Homo sapiens: one gene and its partners. The protein of the gene in region 1 interacts with the protein of each later gene in a biochemical or structural test. Each region holds a gene or a part of one and is shown on either strand. Other genes may lie near its edges.

What was found. The genes of interacting proteins can lie anywhere in the genome.
Region 2: the proteins of THRB (region 1) and TBL1X form a complex in vitro, tested with the Homo sapiens proteins (2 studies listed by BioGRID).
Region 3: the proteins of THRB (region 1) and NCOA6 form a complex in vitro, tested with the Homo sapiens proteins (2 studies listed by BioGRID).

The regions. Positions count from the first base shown.
Region 1 is NC_000003.12:24,120,826-24,127,850, reverse strand, and holds part of THRB (thyroid hormone receptor beta), read left to right. Parts: intron 1-93; coding exon 94-352; intron 353-4,725; coding exon 4,726-4,967; 3' UTR 4,968-7,025.
Region 2 is NC_000023.11:9,460,453-9,468,057, forward strand, and holds the start of TBL1X (F-box-like/WD repeat-containing protein TBL1X), read left to right. Parts: upstream 1-4,605; 5' UTR 4,606-4,995; intron 4,996-7,605. UniProt on the Homo sapiens protein: F-box-like protein involved in the recruitment of the ubiquitin/19S proteasome complex to nuclear receptor-regulated transcription units. Plays an essential role in transcription activation mediated by nuclear receptors.
Region 3 is NC_000020.11:34,745,652-34,752,676, reverse strand, and holds part of NCOA6 (nuclear receptor coactivator 6), read left to right. Parts: intron 1-2,157; coding exon 2,158-3,274; intron 3,275-3,280; exon of another isoform or gene 3,281-3,978; intron 3,979-5,748; coding exon 5,749-5,870; intron 5,871-7,025. UniProt on the Homo sapiens protein: Nuclear receptor coactivator that directly binds nuclear receptors and stimulates the transcriptional activities in a hormone-dependent fashion. Coactivates expression in an agonist- and AF2-dependent manner.

The DNA.
Region 1 (7,025 bases):
AAGGTTATTCCTATTGCTTTTAAGATACTGTATGTTGTTCCTGACTGGCATTTTTGCATTTGTTCTTTGCTGACATGAACTGGTTCTTTTCAGCTGCCATGTGAAGACCAGATCATCCTCCTCAAAGGCTGCTGCATGGAGATCATGTCCCTTCGCGCTGCTGTGCGCTATGACCCAGAAAGTGAGACTTTAACCTTGAATGGGGAAATGGCAGTGACACGGGGCCAGCTGAAAAATGGGGGTCTTGGGGTGGTGTCAGACGCCATCTTTGACCTGGGCATGTCTCTGTCTTCTTTCAACCTGGATGACACTGAAGTAGCCCTCCTTCAGGCCGTCCTGCTGATGTCTTCAGGTGAGTACGCCTAGACTCGTTAGTGGGCATCCAAAGAGCTTTTGCTTGTCTAGCGCTAATTCCAATCACTTGAGTTTTCAGTCCCCCTTTAGCTTCAGAAACATAGCTCACTCTTCTTCAGTAAGAAATTGCAGGTTTGCCAGTGGACTGGGAACTTAAAGGGGGGGCGTCAGATGTCTGATGCTTTTTGCAGTGTCCCAGGATAGAAAGAAGCCAAAGGAGCCATCTTAAAGACTCTACGAAGTGATCCGCCTTTGGTGGATACTGTGCAGCCCTCTTCGTAGTCTTTGGCCAAACCTGCCTCCTTCTGGTTTGGGGTATGCCAGATATGGATGTGAGTGACCACACGATTGTGTGTTAAGTTCTGTGTGTGGAAACCGCGGATGCAGGCTAGAATTTGTTCATGGCTTAGCTACAACTGAAGTTTTAGTTATCTGTTGCTAAATAGCACACCGACCCAAAACTTAGTGGCTTAAACATCCAAGATGGCTGGAGTTCAGCTGGGACATCAAACACTGGTTCAGGCCTCCCTCTATGCGGCCTTTCCTCCGGCAGGGTAGACTTCTTACTTGGCTGTTGATTTCCAAGAGAAAGAGTCCCAAGCACACGAAAACAGAAGTTGCAGATCCCATGAGGCCCAGTCTCAAATCACACAGGATCCCTTCATCCACACTGGATTGGCCCAAACAAGTCTGAGTGCCAGCCAGGACTCAACGGTCCCCCTGTAGATGGGAGGATAGCACAGAATGGGCAGCCGTCTGTAAGCCACTACACATCAAACCCTTTCAGGGAAGATAATTTTAAATAGAAGTGGTTTCAGAGTCCTCTGCATTTTCAGGGCACCCAAGTGTAGATGTGCTTTGGCACTTGTCACTCTGCACTGTAACTACCTGCTTCACTTGTCCACGTAAGTCCCTGTGGACTTCTTTTTTTTGAGGACATAGATGTGTCTAACTGTACATCCAGCACCTAGGCCAGTGTGCAATAGAATTCAAGAAATGCTTATTGGATAAATGGCTGAATATGTGGATAAAATATCGGTCACAAGTACATCGAGAATTCTTTGTAGAGTTGCTGCTTCCTGGTTAACTCAGTAGGAAATTTTTTTTTTTTAACCTGAGACACGGTCTTGCTCTGTTGCCCAGGCTGGAGTGCAGTGGTGTAAAGACAGCTCATCGCAGGCTTGACCTGCTGGGCTTAGGAGATTCTCCTGCCTCAGCCTCTCCAAGCACACGCCACCACCCCTGGCTAATTTTTTATTGTTTTGTAGAGAGAAACAGGTCTCACTATGTTGCCCAGTCTGGTCTTGAACTCCTGGGCTCAAGTGATCTTCTCACCTCAGCCTCCTAAAGTGCTGGGATTATAGGCATGAGCCACCACGCCTGGCCTAGAATTCTTTTTTTAAAGCTAATCTAGAAATGTATTTACTATAGGAAATTTAGATATGGCAGACTTTTAAAAAAAGAAAGAAATAATTCTTTTTATTATGGAAAATTTCAAGGGTAAGCAGATAGAATAGCATAATGAACTCCCATGTACACTGTGGCACCCAGACTCCAGACCGGCCTCCTACACTCCCCACCACCTCCTAATGTTCACACCTTGGATAATCTCCTGTCCTTCAGTGTGTGCAGGACCTGTACCTTGCTTCTAGCCAAGAGAATATGGCAAATTTGATGTCACCCCTTGTGATTACATTACATAATCTAAGATTCCCTCTTGCTGGCAGACTTGCTCTAGGGACTCTCCGTGCCAGCTTCATGAAGTAAACCGCCATGTGGGGAAAGTTCCCATGACAGGAGCTATAGATGACCTCTAGGGCTGAGGGTGGTCTCCAGTGACAGCCAGCAAGAAATGGGGCCCACAGTCGTTCAGGAGAATTAGTCTCAAAGAAATAAAATTTATAGCTTATCCAAGGACTCCTTGTGTGACTTTGGGTGACCCCTAGCTTCTCTGGACTTCAGTGACCTTTAAAATGAAGAAATTAAGCTACATACACGGGAATTATATTTCTGGAGGGACTCATGGTAATTTTTTTAGCTGAGATTTTAGAGGTACAAAGACAGTTTTAAATAATGTTGAATCACACCACGAGAAAGCTGTTTCTCTGACGGTTTTCTTCCTGGTTATATCTCCTTCCAAATAAGGCAAGGAGAGAGATTCGGTGTGGTGCTAGTCTGCCTTTAACACCTCTCTTGACACTTACCTTCTTTTTTAACAAAGAGAGAGTGGATCTCAGGAGCAATGTTCAGCCAGAACCTTCAGCTCCAAAGTAACAAAGGCTTTTGCCATGCATCTATTTTTGTGGTTATCTTCTGATTTATGTCAAATGGATTTTTATTACTGAATAATAAGATGTTTCCTCTGTAGTGGGTCAGTTTAACAGATTATTAAGCAAATAATCTAAGTAAGGTAGATAAAAGGAAAAGTAGGTGGAGATGACAAAAACTGTGAATGTGATGCCAAACACTATCAAACACCAAACTGAATGATTCTTCCCAGTTCTCTCATGTTGTGAGGCTGACACTGCCTGACAGCTACAGGACAACTTAATAACTTTTCACAATCCACCCTCCCCAGTGATGTGGACCCTCTTCATTAATACTGCCAGGACCAGAAAAATATTACAAGACATTGTGCATTTGGCAAATGATAGCTGCGTGTCAGGGCCCCAAGTCTCCAGTTCTATCATGGGGCCTGATGTTCTAAGCCCCATGTTTTGTGTGCCATTTCGGTTACACAATATCTTAGACTTTTTCTTCAAAGACTTTTCCAAGAGCCACTACTTCTAAGTTCCTTGGTCCCACAGTGCAAAGAGAAAAAATGAAAATGATCTGAAAGACATTTCTTTAAGAACTTTTGTCTTAAGGAGTTAAAATGGTCTTCAGTCTTTAAAATGTTTCTCTCTTCATAAACCTGTTCAGTGTGATTCAAGCATCATCAAAATGTCAATTTGTACTCGCTATGTCATTTACGTGGCCATCTCGTCTTTATCTCTTTGATGCCACAAAACCCACATTATATTTTTCCCTTTGAAAGAACACATCCAAAGCAATAATATGTTGATCTTCTATTTGGGTCAAAAATTAAAGGATCCTGTGGAAAATTCTTGCACACTCAAAGAAAGAGAGAAGATAGGGGAAAGGGAGAGAGGGAGAACCAGCAAATCTGCAGAGCAGCTTCATCAAATATGAAGGAAAACACAAGATAAAAATGCACGAATTGCCATTTGTGCTAAATAGGGGATTCCAAAAGCCCATATGGTTTGTTAGTTTGTTTAGACTCAGAAGGGTGAATTGAGACATTAGCCCTGATCCTTCCTTTCCAATGAAGCAGAACCCTGTTTCGATTCCTATTGATACAGACACCTCAATAATTGGACCTTTGAAGTGTGAATTCATTTGATCAGAGCCACAAAGAACAAACTGAAGAGAACTTAGCAGGGGCACGTTGGGCCTCCTGGAGCTATTTGAGGAATTCATCCGGGTTTATAGATTATTTTTGTCAGCCAAGTGTCTGCAGCCCAACTATTCCCCAGTTGCCCAGCCTCCTTGTGTCACCCCTTTGTTTGCCACTTTTGGAAACTGACTTGAGCCTCTCCCACATACTATGGGAAGCCCAGTAGTCTGCACAGGACTTGGGAAGATTTGCTGGGCTTTCCAGGGTCCCGGTGTCTTCTCACTCCAGCTCCCACTATAGCTGTTCTCTTCTCTGCATGGGGTGACTCTGGCACAGCTCCCCTCCCCTTTTCATTTCAATTCCAAAATCATGACTAATACAAGGCTGCTACTGGTAGCAATTTTACTAAAGGCATAAGGGAAGGGAAAGGCCAGTTCATTGCAGCCTGGAAGACAACACAAAATTAAACATGGTGTTTCTTGGTCCTCAAGGAAATGTCTTACTATTCCGCGTTCCTCCTTTGGCCTCAGGCCTGCTGCAATGTCCCCAGTCCCTTCATATATCTCCCCCTTCTATGCATGTCCACGCTCATCCTCTCCTCTCTGCCAGGCAGCCAGTGAAAATTCAAAATTGTTCCCCTCATCTTGCAGAATATTTCAGCTATGTCAGGCTTCTCCTTCTGTACCCTAGGAGGGAGGCATCACCTTTCACACTCAAGAAGGTAATTCACACTCAAGCTAAACTGTCTAAACAGAGATATTTATCTGAACAAAGTACTGCCTCTCTTCATATAAATGATGCCACTCCCCTGGTACCTGGTCCCTGGAGCACCAGAGTTCACGCTGCATCCATGCTCATGGCTAAGAGGGAAGACCCTAGATCTGCCCGCCCCCCAATAAAGGCCTGGAATTGGACAAAGCAAGCCTTCCCCCTTCCATCTCTGAATCAATGTCCATCTTCTCTCTTCCCCGCAGATCGCCCGGGGCTTGCCTGTGTTGAGAGAATAGAAAAGTACCAAGATAGTTTCCTGCTGGCCTTTGAACACTATATCAATTACCGAAAACACCACGTGACACACTTTTGGCCAAAACTCCTGATGAAGGTGACAGATCTGCGGATGATAGGAGCCTGCCATGCCAGCCGCTTCCTGCACATGAAGGTGGAATGCCCCACAGAACTCTTCCCCCCTTTGTTCTTGGAAGTGTTCGAGGATTAGACTGACTGGATTCATTCTCATAATTCCTACAGCACTACTGGGTGTCATTTCATTCCATTGCCTAGCTCTTTTTTGTTTGTTTCTTTGTGTTGGGAGGGATTATTTGGGAGGGAAAAGGGAAGTAGTCCTTGGCATAGACATGGATGAAATTGCCCCTTGAATGCGGGTACTTGAAACTATTGCATTTCGTTCTCCGGTCCTGTGATGTGAATGCTCTGAAGGTTTTATGGTTGTGGAGGTGGGGTGGGGGACAATCATTAACTCACCAGCACCAAGCATCACCAGCTCCCACCCGTCCCTGGTCCAAGACTTGAGTCAGCAAAATGGCGCCACAGGACACTAAAGAAGCCTTAAAACCAAGATAATACGACCACCTCCACCCAATCCTGATGTTCGCAGGGCTGAAGTTAACAGAGCACAGACCACCTTTAGTTAGATGTGGCTTTCAGCCTTTTAGGGAAAGACTCGAACAAATTTTCATCTATTCAAGAGCATGCTGTTTGCAGCACTCTTTATGGTCTCCTAGGAGCATAACTTGGAATGTACAGGAATATTTGTGTCCTAAAAAAATCAGCTGCCCTTCCAATATCATTTTTATAACGTTATGGTTTAATTCAAGTTATACAAAGGTGTGACTCAAGGATGTGCAGGTATTGACTGATGGAGGCCAACAAGGAAAATATTTTTTTTCAGTGAGCCCAGAGAAATTAGAAATCTTCACCAATGTCAGTGACTGCATGGTTTCCAAAAATTCACATAGTATTACCTCACAGTAGGAAGGCTTCTTTCCCATTTAGGCTCAGAGAACACTTTTACAGAAATCAAACCTATTTACAGGGTGGCACCCCTTTTCTGTGGCATCTGATCTGTCATCTCCCAAGCTCCTGAAGTTCTTTATCCAGGTTGTATCTTTGCTGAGCTGACAACAGATTTCTCTATGGATCAAATATTCTAATCAAGGAAAGATACGGTGAAACTTCAGTCTTCTTCTGGAGAAATGCTGAGGCGAGATTAGTGCAGCTACATTCTGAGTTGAAGGAAATGCAGTGTTCTGAGGGCCCCTTTGTGTCCTGATGGCTGGAGGACGCTTCCTCCTGGTTAGATCCTCAAGCTCCTTGCCTCATTGACAAATGTCTCCTAGTCCCCTTTTTCCCTCTGACTCTGAGGAACTAAATAGCTTGACTATCTCTAAACAGAGACTGGCCCTGCCACTGACCCTCCTGTCCCTCTCATAGCATACCCTGACAGATACTCAATAGAAAACACCTGCAGACCATGTGCACACTTAACTTTCCTGCCCAACCTGCCTCCCCAACGGCCCATGCTAGAATAGCTTGTGCCCAGAAAACAAACAGTGACACTTCATCTCTTCAGCGTCAGAAAATGGGCATAGAATGTACCCATGCAATTGAATGTATCTCATTCTCCACTGGCATAGTAGATATAAACTATTCCTTTGCCTACCTTTTACTGCCTTATCCTGGAAATATTGGGGAAAATAAGCCATATCAGTGAGATTTACCTAAAAACAAAGGAAGGAAAGTCACTATGGAAACCAAGTAGATGCTTTTTGTAAGTTTGGTGGAGCATAACTGGCCCAGAAGTCTGGGTGCCTGAGTTCTAGTTCGTGCTCTGTCAACTGGTAGATTTGTAATTCTAGGTCTTGGTTTTCTTACCTGGTGAATAAGTCATGATCTCTAAAACCCTTCCTGCCCTTAATATTGTCTGAATTTCAAGGGGAAAAAAAAAATCTGGTTCCTTTAATTATTTTTTTTTAACACTTAAATTCCTAACTTTATTAGACAAGAAGTATGGCCCACTTAACAGTTAAGGAACGTAAATTTGTTATTGGCTCGAAATAATAATTTGACACAATACTAGTCAACCATTTAGAGGCCTTGGAAAAAGAAGAGGAACAGCACTGAAAATTCCAAGTATGATTGGAAATTATCTGGGAGCGGGGAATTAAATATTCAATGCATGAAAGCAATTGTACTGGCTTCTGGGAAAAAGGAAACAAGAACATTGCTATGGAACTTGTTACCCAGAGAAAGGAAG
Region 2 (7,605 bases), on another chromosome or scaffold:
AATTTTTTTATTTTTGTTTTTTGTAGAGATGGGATCTCACTGTGTTGTCCAAGCCGGTCTTGAACTCCTGGGCTCAAGTGATTCTCCTGCCTCAGCCTTCCAAAATGCTAGGATTACAGGTGTGAGCCACAGCATTTGGCACAGTGTTTCTTTTTTAAAAAAAAATAAATAATAGGCTTTTTTTTAAGAAGAGCTTTAGATTTGCAGAACAACTGAGCCGATAGTGCAGAGTTACATGTTTCTCTCCCCAGCTTCCAGTGTTATTAACATCTTAAGTTAGTGTGGTACATTTGTAACAACTAAGGAGCCAGTATTCATATATTATTATTAATTAAAGTCCATAGTTACATGAGGGTTTCCTCTTTGTGTTGTACATTTTGTGAATTTTGACAAATATATATACACACACACACTTATATGTATAATAACGTGTATCCACCATCATAGTATTACACAGAATAGTTTCACCACTGTAAAAACCCACTGTGTTCCACCCATTCATCCCTTCTTCCTCCTTGAACCCCTGGCAACCACTGATCTTATTGTTGTCTTATCTGTTTCCCCTTTTCCAGAATGTCATATGGTTGGAATCATACAGTATATGGCCTTTTCAGACTGGCTTCTTTCACTTAGCAATAGGCATTTAAGGTTCCTTTGTGTGTTTTGGGGGCTTGATAACCCATTTCTTTGTAGTGCTGAGTAATATTCCATTATGCGGGTGAGCCACAGTTTGTTTATCCATTCGCCCAGTGAAGGATACTTTGGTTGCTTCCAGTGTTTGGTGATTACGAGTAAAGGTGCCATAAACCTCTGTGTGCAGGTTTTTGGAGCACGTAAGTTTTCAGCTTAGTTAGGTAAATACCTAGGGGCACAACGGCTGACTGTATGGTAAGACTCTGTTTGGCTTTGTAGGAAATTGCCGAACTGTCTTCTGAAGTAGCTGTACAATTGTGCATTCCCATTAGCAACAAATGAGAGTTGCTGTTGTTCTGCATCCTGTCAGCATCTGGGATTGTCAGTTTTCTGGATTTTAGCCATTCTAATGTATGTAGTAGTATCTCATTGTTACTTTAACTTGCAATTCCCTAATGATATATGATGTTCAGCATCTTTTCATATGCTTACTTGCCATCTGTATATCTCTTTGATGAGTTTTTTTCTGATCGTTTGCTCTTTGATTCAGTTGTTTATTTTCTCATCGTGGAGTTTTAAGAAATATGTATATATATATACACATACATATACACATATGTACATATATCTGTACACGCACACACACACACACACACACACACACACACACACTCTAAAAAAAAATTAGAGACAAGGTCTTCTCTGTCGCCCAGGCTGGAGTGCAGTGGTGAGATCACAGCTCACAGCAGCCTCAACAGGTGTGAGCCACTATGCTGGCCTGCATATTTCAAATACAATCCTTAATCAGATATGGAATTTGCAAATATTTCCTCCCATTCTGTGACTTGTCTTCTCATTCTCTTAACAGTGTCTTTTGTAGACTTTTCAAATTTTAGTGATGCCCAACTTACCAATTTTTTTTTCTTTTACGCATCATGCTTTTGGTGTTCTAGCTACACAGTCATTACCAAACCCAAGGTCATCTAGATTTTCTATGTTATCTTCTAAGAGTTTTTATAGTTTTGCCTTTTACATTTGGGGGTATGTTCTATTTTAAGTTAATTTTTGTGAAAGATAAAAAGCCTAGTTTTTTTTTTTTTTTTGGCATATGGGTGTCCAGTTGTTCCAGCACCACTTGTTAAAAAGGATGAATTGCCTTTGCTCCTTTGTGAAAGATTAGTTAAGTATATTTGTGTGAATTCCTACTGCCTTTTAATTAAAATTTTGGGTACTGTTTATGGGGAATGCTGGTAGTATTTGTTGCAAGCAGATTCTTGTTTTCCCCTCCCTCCAGTCAATAACTGAAAATAAGTGTTTGCAACACACACACGCGCACACACGCACATGGCTAGTGCAGTGGGTTTCTGTGTAAATCACTGTGGACCCCTCGCCCTGTTATCCTTTAGCTTTCTCAGAATACACTACCTCCTTGCCGCTCTACTTTATTTCCTTGTTTTCTCCCACCTTATAGGACTGCACATTTGAAAAATCGTTGAAACAGATTAAATAACACAGTCTAATTATCACCCACCTACAGTCCATCTAGTATTTCAAAAAGAGGAATTTTGGTGATTTCACGATAAATGTAGGCGGTCTCTCTTCCTGTCTTAGGTCTTACAGTGTCCTTTGGGGTCCTGTGAGTCTATGATAAAAGATATTGACTCTTTACGGGTAATAAGGGTGGTGGGATTATGGGGATATTGTCAAACAGTCAAGATGAATTCTCAGCTCTTTTGCATTGTCAATTACAGGAGCTCAGCTGTAAATCCTGGCCACACTGGGCTCCAGTTTGAAAGTGAGGATTTCCACCACTTTCCCATACTTTAAAAGACTGGCATCTGCCAAGTAATCAAAACACACAAAGAGGCCTTTTAACCAAGTTTAGCTTGGAATTTCCAACTGCTAACCACAAGCAGGTCTGGCAAGCTAGGAGGCTGGTTGGCTGCGCAGCTACTCCAGAGTGTGCGGTAGCCGAGGGCTGCGTCCGCGTAAAGCCCAGAGCTGTAATGATGTCAACTTGTTATTTACTTTCCAAATCTGAATGACTGAGCAAGGCGAAAGGAGAATCAATCAACCACAATGTGACCCTACAGGCGGAAAAAACGCAGCACTCCCACCAGCAGGCGGTGGGGGAAGGGAAGCACGTGTAGCCAGGGCAGGGTTGCATCATGAGCTCGTTCGGGTTTTCTATTGCACCCTTCGTTTTTCTATTGCATGTAATACCTCAGCATCAGTCTGCACAAGCCCAGGGAGCCCAGGAGCAACGAAGGGCAGGCTCAAGGGAAGGCCCCACCATGTCCTTCTGGGGGGCCTTGAATGGCAACTGATACATAATAAGACACAATCTATTCTGCTGATTCACAATTATGGAGACTGTGTAAGTGTGTATTTTTTTATTGATGTCCTCTAATGATGGTGTAGCAACAGTCGTTTTGCATCATTGACGTTTTACAGCAATATTTTGCAGGGTAATTTTGAGGTCCGCCGTTTTGGTGGAGGACCGGCCTCTTAAAAACTCACCTCCGGCCGGGCACGGTGGCTCACGCCTGTAATCCCAGCACTTTGGGAGGCCGAGGCCGGCGGATTGCCTGAGGTCAGGAGTTCAGACCAGTCTGGCCAATATGGTGAAACCCCGTCTCTACTAAAAATACAAAAAAAATTAGCTGGGCGTGGTGGCATGCGCCTGTAATCCCAGCTACTCGGGAGGCTGAGGCAGGGGAATTGCTTGAACCAGGGTGGTGGAGGTTGCAATGAGCCGACAGCGCGCCACTGCACTCCAGCTTGGGCGACAGAGCGAGACTCCTCAGAAAAACAAAAACAAAAACAAAAAAACAAAAACCTCACCTTAGGTCCCCCTCCCCCTACAACCAGAACAACAAATGGTCTAGAGTTCGAGGAAGAGCAAGTGAGGTTATAGTTTAGATTGCTGAGTGTACCGGGCTCTTAGCACGAAGCTCATTATATAGTAAAGGAAGGGGCAAGAATATTTGAAAAATATTCAACGAGGCTGACCCCAGAGGTGCTGGGGAGGGGGAGTGGAGATCTGTTTAACTGAATTAAGGCTGCGAGTGGTTGGGAGTAGCCTACGTGGAGGGGAGGAAGGAGCGCTGGGGACTTAGGTACACCGGGGCCAGGCCGTGTAAGCCATTGCAACATAAAGCACTTTGCAAGGGCCAGAGGGCTGATGCCTGGGGGGTTGGGGTGGGAGTGATGAGGCCCGAGTGCCCAGGTCCCCCCAACCTCCTCAGCCCCCACACCCGAGTTCCTGGCGCCTATGCCTGTGTGTCTGAGTTTGTCCCTAAGCATTTCTGGCTCTTCTTGGGAGGTGTTTTGCAAAGGTCGAGGCTCCGCCGGAACCCCCACTTTTTGAGCTGGGGTAAAGACTACTGGGGTGTCTTCTAAGACGCCGATTTTGAGGGAGATTCACCATCGGGCAGGTGGCAGGGGGTTCTGTTGGGGCAGCCGGGTGGCTTCCTTTTTGGGGTGGGGGAGGGTAACACTTTAGCAGTGATCGAGGTTCCCCTGCCCCCTAGAAACTGAGGGGGTGGCCGAGGTTCCCGTCCCCTCGAGGCAGTCGTGGAAAGGCTGGGTTTGGGATGTGATGGGGGTAGCCCTGGGGTCCTCTCAGTCCCACGGAGGCCACGGGGAAGGGACCGGGACCAGAGCAACTAGGGAGAGGCCCGGGTTCCCCTCACCCACCCTAGGCGTGGGGGAGCGGGGCGGGCTTGGTAGGGACGCTGGTCCCCCGACCGTGGGACAGGGGCTGGGTTGGGACGCGGGTCCCCACTAGGAGCCGCGGGGGAGGGGCAGGGCCGGAGTCCCTACCCTCGTAGGGGAGGGGCTGGTTCGGGACGCGGCTCCCCCGGGGCGCAGGGGCGGGGCCGGGTGGTACGCCGGGTCCCCTCCCACGGCCGTGAGGGAGGGGCCGGCGGCGGGGGCGGACCCCTGGCGGTCCTCCTGGCTGGGGTCCGCGCGCTCGCGGCAGCTCCCCGTGGAGGTCACTGTCCGTGCCAGTCCCTCCCGCTGTCCCGCCCTCTCCCGCTGCCGCCGCCGCCGCCGCCGCGCCCGCCTCAGCGCCCCCACTCCGCGCTTGGGAGCGAGGAGCCGCCAGCGCCCCCGCCCCGCCGCCGCCGCAGCGCCCTCAGGCCGCCATTCGCCACCGAAACTTTCCAGCGCCCGCGCTCTCTCCGGGACTCGGCGGCGGCGGGGCGGGGGCGGCCCGGGGGCGGCGCGCGGCTGCTCCGGGGCGCCGGGCCCTCTTCGGCCGCCGCACGGCCGGGACTCGGAGGCTGCCGGCTGGAGGGAGGTTCGGAGCGCGGCCGGGCGCGCGGCGCCGCCACAAGTTGCGCTGCTCGCGACGAGGTGAGTGCGCAGGGCTCGGCGGGCCGGGCGCGGGGTCCGCAAACTTCTGCGGGGAGGCGGGTCCCGCGCTGACCCTCCAGGGTCCGGCCGGCGGCTCGGGGCGCCCGAACGCTCCACCCGCCCCTGGAACTCCTGTAGGTGCAGGTCGCCAACTGTCCCCGCGGCGCTCGGACTGGGGTGCGGCGCGCTCCCAGGAGCCTGAACAATACCCCGAGGTGGCCGCTCCCCGAAGTGCCGGCGCGCCTTGCGGGGAGAGACGGAGGTCGGCGGGGGGCTCCTTTGTTTTGGGGAGGGGGAAGTGGCCGGTAAGTTTAGGGAAGCGCTCGGCTTTTCCTCCGGTGCCCCTTTGTCTGCCGATTCAGGGGCTTGCTGGGCAAACCTGCGCCACCGCGGGCTCCGGGGACCGGGGTGGAGGGCGGTGGCGGGATTTCCCCGCTGTTGGGGAGAAGAGCCCCATTCATACCCGGGACGCGGGCCGGCCCTCCCGGACCCGGGTGGAAGCGCAGCCTCGCGGAGTGGGGCAAGCGGCGGGCGAGGTGGCGCGGGCCCCGTGTCTGCTCAGTTTCTGACGCGCAGAAACTGTCAAGGAAGTCGGGAGCCCCAGTCCTCCGCCCATCTCCCCGGCCTGAGCGCACGGCTGGGCTGGGGGCACCCTTGGCCCGTCGAGGGTCTGCAGAGCGCCGCCCGGGGAGAGCGCAGACCTGTTGCTGCTCCTGGGCTCTGACGGGGCGGGTGGGGTGGGTCTCGCAGATCCTGGGCCCCGGCCTTGCTATCCAGGGGGACCTTCCCTAACGATGGGACCGGTGCTCGGAGTGGAGTATGGGGAGTGCGCCTTCGGGAGTCGGCGCTGGCCGGATATGTGACAACTGTGGGTCGCTGGAGGCCCGCCTGCGCTGGGATAGGGCCTGGACTTCACGTGCGTCGCCTGTGTTCCGTCAGACCGGGGCCGGGGCTCGCTCCCTGCAAGGCCTCGTGTTCCCCCAGCCAGCTGCGTTGGACGTTCCACAAAGGTAGGGACTGACGTTTATTCTCGAGTCAGTGATGTTCTGGAGCAAAACCTAAAAAGAAACAAAAACCTACCCTCTATTGTATTTGCAACTGTTTCTGCTTTGCATTGTCATGTGTGGTTTGACCTGCCTTTTGGATGTTTTCCTCTCCTGAAACATCGCCCAGTCCCTGGTTTAACCTGGAAGGCGAGGGGGAAGGAAGGCAACCTCCCTGCTAAGGTTCCAGGCAGTGGCTTTGGTGTTGGAAGTGGCACTTGACGATTTTATGAAAAGTTTACAAGTCCTTCCTAGAAAAGATGTAATTAGGAAAAATAAAATACAGAAGAACGTTGAGTATGACGCGTTTATTTTAAAGGGTAGTCCTGTCTCAAATGTGCTGCACATTTTTGTGGAAAGCCACCAAGCTGGGTAACTAATGCAAACAACAAAAGTTGTTCATCACTGGATCACCGGCCCTTAAGGCGATTCCAGCCCTTAGTAGAACACACACCTGTAGGGCAAATATGGAGATTTGTGGTGTAGTGCTGCCACCCTCGCTCCCCAACTCTCAGGCATTTTGCCCCTTTACCTCAGAGAACTTCTCTCTGTCAGTGGTTTTAAAGAGGAAACAGTTTGCAAAAATAACTTTATTGTAGACATACTTAGAAGTGAATGTTTCAATTTCTGGAGTTTTCCCATCAATTATATCAGTACCACTGGTTCTGTACAACATCATCTTAGTTAGAAGATTTTTTTTCACCTTTTAAGGTGACGAACAGAGGCGGGAAAATGGTCCCTGCAGAGGGAGGCCATCTCCAGCAGGTCCCGAGGGTCAGGAATTCAGATTATCCGATCTACTCCTGCTGGATAGGAGCACACCTCCGCTAGAACCTGGGTCCGGCCCCCTCCCAGTTTTCTGCAGGGCGTCCAGATTCCGGTGCTCTGCCCCGCAGCAGTGCCCTGTGGGCCTCCTGGCTTAGCTGATCAGCACAGCTTCTCTGCCCAGCGAGGCAGGACCATCCTCCCACTGCTTTCCTGATGCCTTGGATTTGCTTTTTTTCCTCCCTTAGGAAAAGCAAAAAAACCTAATATGCTACATCCGAGAAGTTGTTAATCTTTCACTACCACATGCATTGAAAAATCAGTTCCACCCAGGAAGCAACACTAAAGGCATATTGTAAACACTTTTTTTTTTTTAGTTGGAAAGATAAACTTTTTTCCCCCATAACTATTTTTAGTTAGCCGGAGACTGGACTCGAGTTTTTACCTCCGGTCTTGCCCCCTCCACTCCCGCCCTCACTTTCTGTGGGGCTCGACCACATGGACCATGCTGGCCAGACTGGCAAACATGAAACCCACCAGAACCAAAAGAAAAGCTGGATATGGGAAGGGGCCGAAGAAGTCCACATGTTTCTAAAGGGCAAAGAGCCTAGGCTGAGGAGAGACGTTTCAGATCTCCAGGGGAGAAAGACAGCCGTTAAGGAGTCCGCCGGGCTGCTGCCTGCCTGGCCAGCGGGAGCCTGACTTCAGATGCCTGCGCCTCCCAAGCTGGCCCCCTCCCACACAGCCATCGCCATCCAGTATTTAGGGAGAATCCACCGCATGCCTGAAGGTTGCAGAAGTG
Region 3 (7,025 bases), on another chromosome or scaffold:
GATTACAGGCCTGAGCCACTGTGCCCGGCCCACGTGTACATGTTTTGGTTTCCCCATTTATCCTATCTAAAGTAGCTCTACTCTTATCTCTTACTTTCTCTTCTCTCACCCTACTTTCTCTTGTTAGCTTTTACTGCTTCCTGAAAAAATACTTGTCTGTTTGTTAGTTGTGTCTCTTGCCAGTTAGACTGTAGGCTCCAAGGATGCAGGGATTTGGTCTGTCTTGTTTATTGATGTTACCTCAGCACCAAAGTGCCTTCTATGTATCAGGTACTTAATGAATAATTGTCAGTTGAATGAATATACACAGTATATTTATTGTATACAAGCATATACAATGGTCATGGAGTTCCACTTTGAGTTTATAAGGCTGGTTTAGAAAATCTTCCTTAGAGTTCAGGAGAAGTCTGGATAGTGTGAACAAGGTAGTTTGCCCCCTGCCTTCATAGTTGGAGCATGGACTGGCTTCATAACTTCATTGTAGGGGATTTTCTAGTCCCCATTTAAAAGTGAAAAATAAGGCCAAGTGCGGTGGCTCAGCCTGTAATCCCAGCACTTTGGGAGGCCAAGGCGGGTGGATCACCTGAGGTCAGCAGTTCGAGACCAGCCTGACCAACATGCTGAAACCCTGTCTCTACTGAAAATACAAAAATTAGCCGGGTGTGTTGTTGTGCGCTTCTAGTTTCAGCTACTGGGGAGGCTGAGGCATGAAAATCACTTGAACCCAGGAGGTGGAGGTTGCAATGAGCCGAGGTTGCACCAGAGCCAGATTCTGTCTCAAAAACAAAACAACAAAAAAAGTGAAAAATAAAAGGGACAAAATTAACTACAAAGTTATTCAGTTAAACGGGGAGATAATGCAAGTAGCTATAGGAAAATCCCAAAGACCCAGTAAATAAATAAGCACTACAGCAAGGCGGGTAGCAACTTTTGTCTAAGTTAGAAATAGCTGAGAAGACTAAAACATGTGCCACATGATTCACCAGGGACTGCGCAGGAGAGGGTCACTGAGGTTTTATTATTCCTCTATTTGCAGCTTCCAGATGGGTCATCTAGTCAGTTGGCTCCCACCAGAGGCTCAGCTTCCAGATCAAGATTAACTGCTTTTTACCACATCAGGGCAGAGGACACCTGTCCTTGGTGTTATTTTCTTTGAAGTGCAGCATCCACATATCACACACATAGCTTTTGAGAGTCATTATTATTACAGTTTTCCAAGAAGCATTTTTAAATGTCTTCTCATGATTGTTGAGGTTTTCCTAAGAGGACACTTCACATTCTTTTTTTTTTTTTTTTTTTTGAGACGGAGTCTTGCTCTGTCGCCCAGGCTGGACTGCGGACTGCAGTGGCGCAATCTCGGCTCACTGCAAGCTCCGCTTCCCGGGTTCACGCCATTCTCCTGCCTCAGCCTCCCGAGTAGCTGGGACTACAGGCGCCTGCCACCGCGCCCGGCTAATTTTTTGTATTTTTAGTAGAGACGGGGTTTCACCTTGTTAGCCAGGATGGTCTCGATCTCCTGACCTCGTGATCCACCCGCCTCGGCCTCCCAAAGTGCTGGGATTACAGGCGTGAGCCACCGCGCCCGGCCGACACTTCACATTCTTATAGCAGAGTTATTTCAGTAGCCCATAGTGCTTTTTGAATTTAATTTAATTTAATTTTTTGAGACGGGGTTTCACTCTGTCACCAGGCTGGAGTGCAATGGCATGATCTTGGCTCACTTCAACCTCCACCTCCCAGGCTCAAGCAATCCGCCTGCCTCAGCCTCCCAAAGTGCTGGGATTACAGGCATGAACCACCCGAGCCTGGCCACTACAAGTCATTTTAAAACAGTGAGATGCTGCCTTTCTCATTATTTAATCTGAAAGAAAGTAAACTTTCTTGATCTTTGAAACGTTAAATCTTTAAGATACCATATGGGAATGTAGAAACTGTTTCTCCTTCTCTATTATATGGTCATTGGGAATGTAAGCAGTTATCCCACAGCCACATCTTTGTAGTTTAGAAAACTCACAGGAAGTATGTCAACAGCATATTTATGTTGGTCAGTGGATATAAGGGTGATGGATGTCTTTCTGAGTAATGTAACTTGAGTATCTTAATACCAATAAGATAAAAATATTTATTTCTGAAACTGTGACTTTTTTTTTTTTTAAGGTGGTCAAGGAGCTGGTCCTCCTCAAAACCAGATGCAGGTGTCCCACGGGCCGCCAAATATGATGCAGCCCAGCCTCATGGGAATTCATGGCAACATGAACAATCAGCAGGCTGGTACTTCTGGGGTTCCTCAAGTGAACCTCAGCAACATGCAAGGCCAGCCCCAGCAGGGCCCACCATCTCAGCTGATGGGCATGCACCAGCAAATCGTGCCCTCCCAGGGCCAGATGGTCCAGCAACAAGGAACCTTGAACCCTCAGAACCCTATGATCCTTTCAAGGGCCCAGCTTATGCCACAGGGCCAGATGATGGTGAACCCCCCGAGCCAAAATCTTGGGCCCTCGCCCCAAAGGATGACCCCACCCAAGCAGATGCTTTCCCAGCAGGGCCCACAAATGATGGCGCCACATAACCAGATGATGGGGCCTCAGGGGCAGGTTTTGCTCCAACAGAACCCAATGATAGAGCAGATTATGACCAATCAAATGCAGGGGAATAAGCAGCAGTTTAACACTCAGAACCAGTCCAATGTCATGCCGGGACCAGCCCAGATAATGAGGGGACCAACTCCAAACATGCAAGGAAATATGGTGCAGTTTACGGGACAGATGTCAGGACAGATGCTGCCCCAGCAAGGGCCTGTGAACAACAGTCCATCTCAGGTTATGGGCATTCAGGGACAGGTCCTGCGGCCACCAGGGCCCAGCCCACACATGGCCCAGCAGCATGGTGATCCTGCTACTACAGCAAATAACGATGTCAGTTTATCTCAGATGATGCCTGATGTTAGCATTCAACAAACCAACATGGTCCCCCCTCATGTGCAGGCCATGCAGGGAAACAGTGCCTCGGGAAACCACTTCTCAGGCCATGGGATGTCTTTCAATGCACCTTTCAGTGGAGCTCCCAATGGAAATCAGATGTCCTGTGGTCAAAATCCAGGCTTCCCAGTCAATAAGGATGTCACGCTAACGAGCCCATTGTTGGTCAACTTATTGCAGAGTGACATATCTGCAGGCCATTTTGGGGTAAACAATAAGCAAAATAATACCAACGCAAATAAACCGAAGAAGAAGAAACCCCCTCGGAAGAAGAAAAATAGTCAGCAAGATCTAAAGTAGGTTGTGATGGTTTTGCCTCAAATTTTATTCATTTGTTTTCTGTGTGGATAACTTTTTTGATGGAAAATTTTACAGAATATAAAACTAGAATAGTATAATGAAATCCCCCTGCTTCAATAATTATCAACTCATAGTCTGTCTTGCCTTCATCTGTACTCTCTTCCATTACCCTTTTGAGTATTTCAAAGCAAATTCGCTGGGTAAATATTTCAGTGTGTGTCTCTAAAAGATAAGGACACTTTTTAATATGCCCGCACAATATTGTTAGCACACCTAGAAAACTAATACTTCCTTAGTACTCTCATATCCAGTGTTCAAACTTCCCTGATTATCTCAAATTTTTTTCTTACAATTTGTTCAAATAAGGATCCAAACAAGATTCATATGTTGCAATTGGCTGGTATATCTCTTAATTTTACAGTGTCGGGGGGTTTTGGCAATCAGAGCCTGAAAAGTAACCAGTGCTACCATATGGCAACTCCACAAAGCACTGACTTTAGGCTTATGATGGCTATTGGGGAACCAGAGAGGCCAAATGTGTTTTGGAAATTAAAACTACTGCTGTCTCTCAAATAGAAATGGTTTTTTTGCACAGGTGCCTTTCCTTTAAAGGCTCTTTATCATCCCTAGAAGCTTAAAACCCCACGCTAAGATGATTGGACCTTTTAAATCAGTTACCCTTTCAGTAAACGTTCTCCAGGTGAGTTATTTTGCAAGATCATAGCAGGAAAGGCAATTAACAATTTATATTTCATTTCCTGAAGCTAAGTATTAATTTGTGTTTCTGGGTTTGATAAAATGTTTCCAGAAGGAATATTCACTGAGCTATATTTTGTGCCTTTAATCATAAAAAAATAATAAATGAGGAAATAATGGCTAATGAATGTAAAACAGGTTAATTGAAATAAATTGTTAGAATTATAGAAAAAGAATCAAGAAACTTTATTTCAACCAGCTTAAATATTCAAAATTAAACCAACTACCTTTATCCCAGCCTTCCCACAACATTCTTTGTACTGTATTATATCATGCTCACTTGCCTCTTCTTGAATCTTATGCTTTAAAAGCTAATCATGGTGTATTATTAATGATAACCTATATTTTCCTGAATTCAAAGTTAATTATCTAATTTTTCTGATAGCTCTTTCTCAGTTAAATTCTTTACTAGCATCAACCTATGGGAATAATTATTTAATAAATATTTTATTCTCTCGGTAGTCTGGGAGTAAAATTGCAAGGTTATTCAGTTGCCTCTAGTGTGTATTTTTTGCCATCTTCACCAGCCCTTAGGGAAATTGGTTACTTAGGTCTACAAATTGTGAAAGGGACCTTACACAGCATCAGGACTCCCAGGAAAGGGAGACAGTGGATTTACAGGAAAAGTACCTGCTTCCAGCTCTACCACTACTTCACTGTGGAATCTTGGGCCTGTTTCATACACCTTTTTGGGCCTTAGTTTTCTCATTCATAACATGATGGGGCTGGACCAGATATCTGAGATTTCTTATCTCTACAATTTTCTGAAAGTAAAGGTTACCACTGAATTCTTGCCTGTAATTTAAAGTGAGAGAGAAGTCTTACAAGGAGCAAATTGTTATAGGTCTGGATGTGCTGACGATCTGCTTCAGGTTCTAAATTTCCATTTGCTGGGAGGCTTTTAAAGTGGATTTTTGTGGCTTATGAAACTGTACAGAGTATAATGAGACAAAACACTACCTAAAAGTGGGTGAACAAAATCAGGGCAAAGGGAAACTAAAGATAGAAAAGAAAAGTACAATTAGTACTGAGATTACAAACAAAATGAGGCCCGTGACCAGTCTTGTTCTTTGAGAATGTGGGTGTTAGTAGCTACAATTTCTTCATTTTTTTCTTCCTTACTAAAAATTTTAAGCTACACCCAGGTAAAAGCAAAGGCATCTCAAAGCAAATAGAGATGTCTGCAAATTCTCATTCTGCAGCAAAATCTTTGTGGTGGTGGTCTCAATCTTTCTTTGTTCTCTGAATACCATCAGCCAACCTATACAACCTTTTGCAAGGTGTTATGAATTGAGCCCCCACTGTTATATCCACAAAAAAGAAACAATCAGACCCCCTAGTTGAATTTGATCGCTACATTGAAGATAGTGTGGTTTCACAGGAACAGTACCTTGTAACATTGATAGTCCTATGATCAGGTCTTAAAACAGCTAAGGAATGGGTGATTACATGAAAATTATTGCACCAGGAATTTGTGGAAAGCATTCTGAGTAAATACAGTGCTGTTAGATTAAATGGATTTTAACATTTAATGAAATTGCCAGATTATTTTTATGCCAATATTTAATATTTTATCTAGACTAGAGAGAGATGAATAATGGTAATGCAAACATTTTAGTTCTTCAGAAATAGGGGAAGGGTTAAGCTAGTTTTGTGTATTTTCTATACAACTTATTCTAAAATATGTCACTTTTTTTTTTTTTTTTTTTTTTAGCACCCCAGATACTCGCCCAGCTGGTCTGGAAGAGGCTGATCAGCCACCGTTGCCTGGAGAACAAGGAATTAACTTGGATAACTCAGGCCCTAAACTGCCAGAATTTTCAAACCGGCCACCAGGTGATAAAATGTTAGCTAGATTATATACTTATTACATGTGCATGTGGCATTACAAGGCTTCCATGTCTTCAAGGAAACAATAGTATTTTATTTTATCTGCTAACTAGTCTACTTCAGTGATTTAATGTGTCTGGTATTTGGAAGCTTTGCCTTGATATTAAGTAAAAATTTCAAATATAACTTTTGAAGGCACATACACACACACATTCTATTCAAATTTGTCTTTGTTATTTTAAGTCCTCATAAAATCGGACTGAAATGTGGTTGGGCATGATGGCTCATCCACCTGTAATCACAGCACTTTGGGAGGCCAAGATGAGCAGATCGCTTGAGCGCAAGTGTTCAAGACCAGCCTGGGCAACATGGTGAAACCTTGTCTCTACTAAAAATTTTTTAAAAATTAGCCAGGTGTGGTGACACGCACCTATAGTCCCAGCTACTCAGGAGGCTGAGGTGGGAGCATCACCTGAGCCCAGGAAGTCGAAGTTGCAGTGAGCCATGATCATGCCACTGCACTCCAGCCTGGGACCCTGTCTCAAAAAAAAAAAAAAAAACCATGAAATGTGAAGTGCCTCTTTATTCTTGTCAATGTCAAGATTCTAGTTGGCATCAGAACAGGATAAGATTAAATGGAGAGATGATTTCACTCTAATCCTGCTTGCCTGCCTTTCCTGCAGCGTTTCTTCCTGGGGCTTCTCAAAGCAGGGAACTACCAGGGTTTAAAACAAGATGATCTTTTTTATAGAAGTTTCATTAATGAGTCTTTAAAATATAAAGAAGATATAAAGAATAAAAGAGACACCCATGTATCTACCACATAGGTTAATAATTTATAATAAATAGGACCAATATTGGAAGCCCCCTTTGTTGTATCCTCTCTGATTATAAAATAATACTATCCTTTAAATGTTGAAAAATTATGTCAAAGATGGAAAAGCTCCTAAAATTAATTCATTCAAACCTAGATATTATAGAACCAAGGCCAGCTGCCACAATATCTCTATACCTGGTTATCTTGGCCTGAGCAATGACTTGTAACTTTATTCCCCTATGACACGGTTGAAGATACACAACCCTTCACACTTAGGCCACTCTCCCCTGTGTGTACAGAGGGTATGTTTTGTTTCTTCCTCACTAGTTATTTCAACTTCTTTT